Regions from separate parts of the Homo sapiens genome. Here region 2 is linked to region 1. The links come from fine-mapping of genetic effects on gene expression. Tissue or cell type: T cells. Region 1 holds a variant in brackets; the other region holds the start of a gene. All regions are shown on one strand. Distances are from middle to middle.

Evidence for each region. PIP is the estimated chance that this variant, and not a neighbour inherited with it, causes the effect. A credible set is the group of variants that fine-mapping cannot tell apart.
Region 2: S100A8 starts here. The variant in region 1 is the best candidate, but not a certain one, in a credible set for the expression of S100A8 in T cells (TOPMed, PIP 0.55).

Annotation. Positions count from the first base shown.
Region 1 is chr1:153,360,821-153,365,967 of GRCh38, forward strand. S100A9 (S100 calcium binding protein A9) reads left to right here. Exons shown (of 3, transcript NM_002965.4): 3 at 1-203. The coding sequence ends at 18. Among named protein-coding and RNA genes, the nearest start is that of S100A9, 5.5 kb to the left of the region's middle. The variant C/G (reference allele first, on the strand shown) is at 2,722.
Region 2 is chr1:153,389,134-153,394,280 of GRCh38, forward strand. It overlaps S100A8 (S100 calcium binding protein A8), which reads right to left and starts at 1,940. Exons shown (of 3, transcript NM_002964.5): 1 at 1,908-1,940; 2 at 1,262-1,424; 3 at 899-1,110. The coding sequence starts at 1,402. The coding sequence ends at 970. RefSeq lists a silencer at 947-1,147.

The DNA of each region.
Region 1 (5,147 bases):
GGGGAGGGCACCCCCTAAGACCACAGTGGCCAAGATCACAGTGGCCACGGCCACGGCCACAGTCATGGTGGCCACGGCCACAGCCACTAATCAGGAGGCCAGGCCACCCTGCCTCTACCCAACCAGGGCCCCGGGGCCTGTTATGTCAAACTGTCTTGGCTGTGGGGCTAGGGGCTGGGGCCAAATAAAGTCTCTTCCTCCAAGTCAGTGCTCTGTGTGCTTCTTCCACCTCTTCTCCAACCCTGCCTTCCCAGGGCTCTGGGCATTAGACAGCCCTGTCCTTATCTGTGACTCAGCCCCCTCATTCAGTATTAACAAAATGAGAAGCAGCAAAACATGGGTCTGTGCTGGGCCCCTTGGGCTCACCTCCCTGACCATGTCCTCACCTCTGACTTCAGGCCCCACTGTTCAGATCCCAGGCTCCCTGCCCCATCTCAGACACCCTGTCCAGCCTGTCCAGCCTGACAAATGGCCCTTGTCACTGTACACTGTAGAAAGCAAAAAGGCATATCTCTACCCCTTGATATGCCTGCTACCTCACCAACCAGCCCCAAGCCTGTCTTCACCCATCACTGTCTACACAGCCCTCTCTCTCTCCTAACAGAATTCTATTCCTCTGAAAGTCTTCCAGAAATGGACCTAGATAGTGCCATGTCTGGGGAGGAATACTGGCACCCAGGCAGTGGAAACAAGGACAGATCCGGTGTGTTTACTCTCACACTTTTTCTGGATCCAAGAGAGCAATTGGATCTCTCTTAACAGACCTGCCACCCTAATCAACGGGAGTGCTCACACAAGTGGGAGTCTGAGAGCTTAGCCCTATGCCCACCCTGGTCTCAACAGAATGGCAGAGTGAAGAAATGAGCTCCAGTCCGGGCTCTGCAGCTAAAAGACTCCGTGACTACCAGGAGGAGTCTGTGCTCTGGGTCCAGAGAGCCTGGGGGTCTGAAGATTCTGATTTTAAGCTTTGAGGGCCAGCTGTCCTTTCTGGTGGGTAGCTGAGAGCTGGGCCCAGCACAAGTATCTGCTTCTCTCTGCAAAGCCTACTACCAGGCCTGGCCCTAGCTGCCTCAGGGCTACTGCTGCAGCTCCCCCTTCAAGCTGCCCCAGATCCAAGTGCTCAGTTCAGGGACTCCTCTGCCATCTTCCTGCCCTTTGGCTATAAAGTCCCTTTCCTAGGTTATAACCAGTGGGGTTTGGCCTTCCAAAAACCAGAGTCCAGATCAAGGTCCTCTGACCCCTGTCCTTTCAGCAGAAAGAAGACTCACAGAATTAGGATCTGGGGAAGCTGGGAAGACTAGCAGTCACCTACTCTCCCTTTTCATAAGTGAAGAAACCGAGGTGTAATATGGAGAAGAGACTAGTCCAAAGTCACACAAATGACAGAGTTGCTCAAAATAATGCAGTACGAAAAGTAGCTTGAATCATATCTGCCCCACTGGCTGCACCTCCCCAGCCCCTTCCCCAGTGCAGAGCAGGAAGATATAGAGCTGCCAGTGTTGGATTTCAGCCCTCCCCTCACAGCCTGGCTATGGTTGTGCCCCCAACCTGCCTGTTGCAGACTCCTGCTTTAAGGGCCTGGGGGCTCCGCTCTGGGTGCAGGGTTTTAAGGGCTCCCACTCGAGGGTATGAGGATGTTTCCAGGAACTGTCTCAGGCTGAGAGCTTAGGCAGCAGAGTCTAGAAGCCCTCCTCAGTCCCTTCTGTGCCTGACTTGGAGACCTGACAGCTGGGGACACTCATTTTCTGACAGCCCTTCTGCTCCCATGCTCACATCCAGGGAGGAGTCACTGTCTTCACTCCCTTCTGAACACAGCTTGGTAATGAGGAGAGAGAAGCATCCTGGGGATTGGAGGGCCTTAGACCAGATGCTTCCAGTAGGGTGGTAAGTGCTCCCCCTAGGCCCTCTGCCCACCACTACTTATCACAATGTGCCTAAATATGTTTATGACTCTGCCTACCCCTCCAGACTGATAACTCCAAGAGAGCAAAGTCCATCTGTTTTTTTTTTCTGATTTATTCTCAGCACCTAGAGTAGTGGCTGCTACATAGAAGGTTCTCAGCAAATATTGCCTGTATAATGGCCTAGGTTTCTCACGTGTTCTATGCTCTCTTCTCAAGGGATGATGTGGAGAAAAAAAAGCAAGAGGAGATCAAAACCTGCAAATGGAAGGCTTCTGCATTAGCATTACAGAATCTCAAACCTGAAGGTAAGGAGCAGCAAGTTGATGGAATCGGAGGGCCCCTCCACCCCCTGTTCAATCAGACCAATTTGATTTGAAGGAAGAGATTTGTCTTGAAAAAAGTGTGAAAACTATGGACTTAATCCAATCTGCCCCACCCACACTCTAGAGTGATTCTTGCCAACATCCCTGCCAAGTGACTGAACCAACCCTGCCTGAATTCCTCCAGGAAAGGAGAGTTTCCCCCTTTGGGAGTGACACTTGGAATGTCCCTCATTATACTGAGCTGAAATCCATCTCCTCATGCCCACCCAGCATTAGTCCTACTTTTCCTCCCCTTTGAGGACACAGAACAAATCTAACCCCTTATCATCCATCCTCCCATCCACATGTTTATTCCTCCACTTCTTCAAAACGCCTTCCCTAAATTACATCCAGGCTTTCTCCAGCCTCTTCACCTTTGCACCAAAAATGCTGTGCTCCATCCTGGTGTCTCTTGTAAGTCCCTTAGGATCCATCAAGCCTTGGAACAAGTGTTA[C/G]TGCTTCCTCACCATCCACCCTTCTCAAGAAGATAGGGACTTCCTCCTCCAGGCCCACAGAACTCTGACAATTCCACCATTGCACTTCAAATACTGAATGGCAAATACTCATTTGCCAAGACTATGAACCCCTGAAAGCAGGGACTATAGCTGATTTTCCCCCACATTCAAGATCCCAGCATGGACCATCCACTTGTTCATCCACAAAGTGAAGATAGGATGGTTCTAGAGCAGAAATGGGTGCTTTGCTCGAATGTGGGTGTGAGGTAGGAGTGGCTCTCAGGAACTGGGGTTGGGGGTGCCAGCTGTCTGGAGACCTGGGGCTGGCAGAGAGCAGAGCAGCTGAGTGGCAGGATGACCCAGAGACCTCCTCAGGTAACAAGGATTCTTCCATTTACCTTGTCTCTAGTAACTCAGTCTGCATGTAGGCAATTGTTTCAGACCCTGGGGGAAGGTCTGACAACAAGCCACTTGCACCCTGCGGAATTTTCTTTAAACGTAGTTGAACAGAACTCATCAAGGTGACTTAACCTCTTCATTCCCATTAGCCTCTTTCATTTCAAAAAAAAAAAAAAAAAAAAAAACCTCATTCTGCTGAGTAGAGCAGAGTGGGCTTCTTTTCTCAGATAGAGAGAGCAAGCATGTCCATGTCCATGTCAAGGTTAAGATTCCCACTCCAAGTGGAAATCAGTAGCTATCTCTGTGATTAATGAGTCCTTTGGGGAAACATGACCTTTGGGGACTTTCCCAGCACCATGGTGACTAAAGAATCAGAGACAACCTGTCTTCAGATGACTATCCAACAATTCCTGCAACAATGAGTTGCCCTCCAGGCTGGTGTTAGCAGTGGAACCTGAACTGCTAGATGCCTTCCTGGGAGGAATGAGGAAGGATCAGAAGTAGTCTAAGCTGCTAAACTCTTCCCAGACACTTCACAGTGCTCTGAATGTGGTCTGGGGCCTGGGTGGTGGTGGGATGGCTCCAGAACTTGGGGGAGAAATGAATTCACTTGTCCACTCACTTGTATGTCCCTTCATTCACTCAACAGACATTAACTGCAGACTTACTATGTGTCAGGCACAGTATAATGCTGAGGGGCCTTCATGATAAATAAAGCTTGTCCATGTTGTCAAAGAGTTCTCGGGCCTGCAGGGAGACAAGACAGCTCCTCAAATTAATCTGATGTGGAAAATGAGAGGCCAGGGAGGTCCAGCTAAAAGATTTCGGTGGGATGTAGCTCGGTGGGACTTTGAGGTGGGAATGATGCCCTTCACTGGGGCCATCTCCATGGAGGGGTAAGTATCAGTGTGACATCAAGGCTGGTACCTGGAGACATCCCGGGATAAACATGAAGGTGCTTCAGGAGACCATGTATGCAAAGGCCTGGAAATGGGCAGGCGTGGGGTTTGAGGGCGAATGAGGAGCACTGGGGGCGTGGCAGGGAGAGGTAAGAGAGACAGATGAGAACAGGATAGGTACCAGGCCAAGGAACTCACACTCCATTCAGCAGAACAGGGGCAGAGCCCCGAAGGCTTCAGGGAGGGCAATGATATAATCACATTTGCATTTCATAGAAGTTTCTCTATCTGTGTTTTATGGGATGGGTTTGGGGTGGGAATGAGACCCCAGGCACATGGCCTGTGGGGAGTCTGTTGCAAGAGCCCAGGTGAGCACTTAAGAGTCCAAGCGGTGCTTCTCAGAAAAAGTAAAGCTAGAGCCTCAAACTACCCCAAGCTTCACCTCAATTAGGAGAGGTGTGACTGCAACATGATAAATAAGATCATTTCATGCTGTTTGCCAAGACCTTTCCAGGAAGGAAGATCTCAGCTTTCACCAGCCCGGTGAGCCAACCTTACACAACCCTGATGCAGCCCTGCCCTGAAGTAAGCTCCATAATCCAACCCCAATGCACTGCCCCCTCTTCCGGCAGTTGCTTAAAACATATATTTTAGAAAGCCCCGTGTCATGGATTTTGACACTCCAATTACCAAAGTGACAGCAGGACTGAAACAACTGGTTTCTCAAGTCCTATTGCCCCTTGGGGCTCTGACCTGAAACAGTTTCTCTATCCTAAGACGACAATCAGTCCCTGGATGATTAGATCACCCCTGTCTTCAGAGATCCACTCCCAGACACAGGAGACAGGGAAAGGGAGCCCCTGAGCGACAGCCAGCTGGCCTCCATCCTGAGTGTCCCACGGAATGCAGAGTCCCAACTAAACACAGAGCACCGCTATTGGTGCTGGCTCAAAACAACTACATCTAGGCTTTCCTTTTCTGCATGAGTTCTCCCACTCTTGCCCACGTACCCAAAATTGCTGCATGCAGACTGTACAGTGAGGAAGGGGTTTGTTGCCAAGACCCGAGGTGAAGAGGAAGAGGAGGGTGGCCACCAGCAGGGGCGGCAGGGGCAGCAGGATTCCAGCA
Region 2 (5,147 bases), 28 kb after region 1:
AGGACAACAGAAAATTCCCCACACCACAGCATGAAAATCCAGTTTGGGGTGACATTCTTGTCAAAAGGTTCCCCTTCATTTTCTTCTTTTTTTAATGTCCACCTCAGAGAAGAACCACTCGTCTTCTGGCCTTCCCCTTGTACCAGCCCTTGGGAAGTATTTTTTAGATAATTTTCTGATCACCAAAGCATAGAATCCCATAGGGCAGCGTATGAATAACCTATTCTTTGACTTAAGTTTTACTAATTTATTTTCCTATTTGCCTATTCCTTTATCATTTAATTGAGTTGGGAGTTTGGGAGTGGAGAGGGAGGAAAAATTTTCAAAATCCCCAAGGACAAACTACAGGTATGTGGACAGGTGTGAGGATTATCCTGTTAATGGAGGACTCTGAACATTGTCCACCTACATCACACCACACACACAATCAGCCTCTCCCCCCTTCCCTCTCTTGCTCTCTTTCTGTCTGTCTCTCTCTCACACACACACACACAGACACACACACACACACCCACACACTTCTATGTAGCTATCACTCTAATTTCCCAAGAGCCACATCTAAGACATTTAGCTGGAAGCTAAAATTTAGCTTAGAGAACAGTATCAGTTGTTCTTATACTACCACCCTGTTCCCAAATCCCCGACCCATTTCAGAACCACTAGTAAAATCATCAGCTATAGTGTCATGGACTTTTTGGAATCCTTAAGCCTCAAATCCAATGGCTCAAGATGGAGGGGCTGGAAGGGAATGTGGGGCAGAGGCCAGGTGAGGGGTAAAGCAGGAAAGGCTTGTGAGAGGTAGGGTGGGATAACATAGATTTCTTTTTCTTCCTTTGGGTTTTCCAACCCTCCCTCCACACCGAGGAACCTCATTCCACAAAAGCATAAGAGAGAGGCATGAGGTATTGATGACTTTATTATTCTGCAGGTACATGTCCAGGGGCCCAGCCTCTGGGCCCAGTAACTCAGCTACTCTTTGTGGCTTTCTTCATGGCTTTTTTTGTGGGCTGCCACGCCCATCTTTATCACCAGAATGAGGAACTCCTGGAAGTTAACTGCACCATCAGTGTTGATATCCAACTCTTTGAACCAGACGTCTGCACCCTTTTTCTGTCAAGATTGAGGAGGAAGAAGCCAGAGTTTAAAGATCTCAGAGAGAGCCGAGGCATAGCCATCTATGAAGGGTGGCAGGGAGGACCGCTGGCCCAGGGCAGCCCCAGGACCAGGCAGAGAGCCCCCGCCACACCCAGCCCCTCCTCACCCTGATATACTGAGGACACTCGGTCTCTAGCAATTTCTTCAGGTCATCCCTGTAGACGGCATGGAAATTCCCCTTTATCAGGGAGTACTTGTGGTAGACGTCGATGATAGAGTTCAAGGCTTTCTCCAGCTCGGTCAACATGATGCCCACGGACTTGCCCCACCTGAAAAACAGAACCTTCTGGGGAATCCCATGGCAGGGAATTTGCATCTGGCCAGGGCAGTACGCAGAGGATTCATGCCCCAAGCGATGGCCTTGTCCTGGCCTGCACTCTCCAAATAACCAAACCAGCAGATGGCTATGGCTCTGGTGGGAAGGGTGGGATGATAGGGATACACGTGTGGGAAGGGGAAGGGTCCATTCACACAGAGACATGTGCACACACACGGGGCCCGTAGACTTTCCTTACCACCCCACCCTCTGCTCAAGAAAAGTCCAGCCTAGGAGACAATGTGCCCTTACCCACTGGAAGGTGCTGGAGGATACTCTCCTTCCTTATCCCTGCCTCACTCCCCACCTCCAGGAGTATCTTTGCTCCAGACCTCCCTGAGCTTTCTCTCTCCTCTCTCAGGAAGGCTGCTCCACTTCCCTGACCCTCCCCAAGAGAAGCCCAAAGTGCGGGGCCAACCCAGACAGTCCCACTTACCAGGTCTTCTGAAAGACAGCTGACAAGAGACATGCAGGGCTGAGAGGCAGCTCCTTTTTATAGCGGTTAGGCTTGGCCAGCTGCCCACAGCTTCAGGCCATCAGAGACAGCTTCTCCCTGCCAGAGTTGCTACAGTCTCTGGTTTCTCAACCAGGTGAATGTGGCAATCACTGTGCAGAATGAAAATTTTGGGTGGGGAGGTAGGAGAAGCGGAAAGAGGAAGGCATTTGCTGGGCAATAGTGCCCAGAAGGAAAAAGCAGGTAGGGGGGCTCTTTTTCTGGGCTGCTGGCATCCACTTGCTTGATCCAGCCAGATTCCCACTCCCATGCCCTCTCCACTATTGCGATTGCTAATCCCCTGCATTGGTGGTCAGGCCATACATCCCTGAAACTGAATTGAAGTTGAATGCATCATTTTGAGTGCATGCACTCAGTGAGAACATTCCTCCATGGCTTCTGTCAGAGTTTCAAAGGGTCCAAAGACCGCAAAAGGGTTGAGAACACGTGTCCTGGCTGATGGCTTTTAGTCATGAGAACTATTGTTCTCATTACTAAAAACTAAAACTATCGTTGTTGTTCTTTTGGGTGGGTGCTTTGTGGGGAAATGTGTTGTTGCCAAGGGCTATATCCATTCCTACCCTGCTGCCCACACTCCTCCACAGCTTTCCTGTTCTGTGAAGCTGGGGATGGACCATGCCCTGGGAGATGGAGGCTGCTTGGGGTCCCTCGGCACTTCACAAGGGCCTGAGCCATTGCATAAACACAGCAGGGAGCCTTTCACCCTCTCTTGGTTAATTATTGTGTCTGGGACCCCAGGATCACTGGCTGAAGAGAGGAAGCTAACTCTGAGGTAGTGGAGGGGAAGAGTTCTTTGGAGAAGCCAGACGCGCTTCATGCCTAAGAGGAGAAGAGGAGGTGGCCAATTCCCCAGGATTTCAGGAGGAACAAATCCTCTCCCCACCACTAACAAAATGCTACTCAGATTAACTGGCTTCCAACCTTGAAGACTGTGGTGTGTTTCTGTTGTTACAAAGAAAATATTTGTAAAACAAATATCTGATAAGGGATTAATATCCAGAATATAAAAGAATCCCTACAACTCAACAACAAAAAACAAACAAACCAATCAAAAATTGGGGAAAAGACTCAAATAGACACTTCTCCGAAGAAGATATACAAATGGTCAATAAGCATATGAAAATTACTAATCTTTAGGAAAACATGAAGCAAAACGACAATGAGATACCACCTGACACCTACAAGGATGACTACTACTTCTTTTAAAACCCAGAAAACAAGTGTTGGTGAGGGCATAGAGAATTGGAAGCCTAATGCACTGTTAGTGGGAATGTAAAATAGTGCAGCTGTTATGGAAAACGGCAAGTTTGTTCCTCAAATAAATAAACACAGAATTACCATATGATCCATCATTCTGCTCCTGGGTATATATGCAAAAGAATTGAATGCAGGGATTCAAACAGATGTTTGTACATTCATGTTCATAGCAGCATTATTTACAAGAGCCAAAAGGTGGAAGCAACCCAAGTGTCCCTCAACACATGAATGGATGAAGAAAATGTTTTGTGGGGACATGTGTTGTTGCCGAGGGCTAAATCCATTCCTACCCTGCTGCCCACACTCCTCCACAGCTCTCCTGTTCTGTGAAGCTGGGGATCCACCGTGCCCTGGGAGATGGAGGCTGCTTGGGGTCCCTCTGCATTGCACAAGGGCATGAGCCATTGCATAAACATAGCAGGGAGTCTTTCACCCTCCAAAATAAATCCAGCTCTCTCTGGATGTGAGCCATTGGGGACCCAGCACAGTGCCCAGCACACACAATAACAGCAGCCACAATCACTGATCAGAGCAAATCATGACAAAATACTAGTTCACACTCACTGAGCTTTTCCCATGTCCGGGAACTATTCTAAGTGCTGCTTTATTTGCATTGATCATTTAATTCTCACACTAATCCAATGACGTATGTACTATTATAATGCCCATTGTACAGATGAGGAAACTAAGCCCCACAGAGAGACATAGTAATTCAGCGTATCAAATGATTGAGTGACTCATGATGTGATGTGACAGCATCCACTTCCTATTCCTGCCTGTAATGCCTTTTGTCCCTGTAATGTCCTCCTCACCATTCCTGATCCAGCTCAGGCATCATCTGCTCCAAGTCCATCCCTGATCCACCTGCCCTCACCCCATCAAGGCAGAATTAGTTCTTCTCTCCTCCATGCTACCCAAATCCTTACCCATCACAGCATTTGCCCTGCTATGTTATGATTCACTTGTTTATTGTCTGTCTTTTCTTTGGGACCAGGAGACCATTTAGAAAAGAAATCACATTTCTTTTCACAACCCTAGGGCCTGGCAGCTACTACATGTTCAATTAATACTTATTGAGGGATAAATGAATACAAAATTAAGTTTGACCCTTCCCTTATCCAAGGCAGAAATTCTCTTTATCACAATCAGCCATCTTAAATCATTTCTGGAAGAAGGCAGGGTATAAATTCATCAAACAAATGCAGTCTGACTTCCTTGACAAAAGATGAATCAAGCTCCATCTAGGAAAACAACGCCATTTCTGACATGACAAGTTTTCAACCAAGGATCCACCCTTGGTTAATACCTATTATTCACCACGTACTATCCTATGTGACCAGCATAACAGCACCTGCCTCAAAGCACCATATCATATTTTCAAAGTATTTTGCATCCACTGACTCATTTGATATTCCCAGCAACCTAGTGATGTGGACATTACAAGTATAATTATCCCTATTTGACAGATGGGGAAACTGAGGCACAGGGCATTACTTCAGGTCCTTCCCCTGGTCCAGTGAGGGAGTCCTGAGTGGTGACCTCCTTCCCACATCATGTACAGGCTGACCAGCAAGATCGTGAAATGTCGCCCCCTCCCCAGAAACTGCGCCCCTGGACAGCCTTGGGTGCTTTGGGGACAGCAGGAGCCAGGCTGAACTGACCTTGCAGCAAAAGGTATCAGGACTTGGGTAAGCACATCTGGGGAAAGGCAGAGGCTGTAAGCAGCCTAGCGGACATGGGGCAACCTAGAGGGAGCGGAACCTGGTCATGTTTACAGGAAAGGGCTCAGTCCCTGGGTGTGTCCCAACAGACCTGACAGGTCCATCCCTGAGGCCAAGGAAATGAGGACAGAGCAGGCAGAGCTGGTGAAGAAACCCCCAGAAGGGGGCAGGAGAGGGCAGGGAG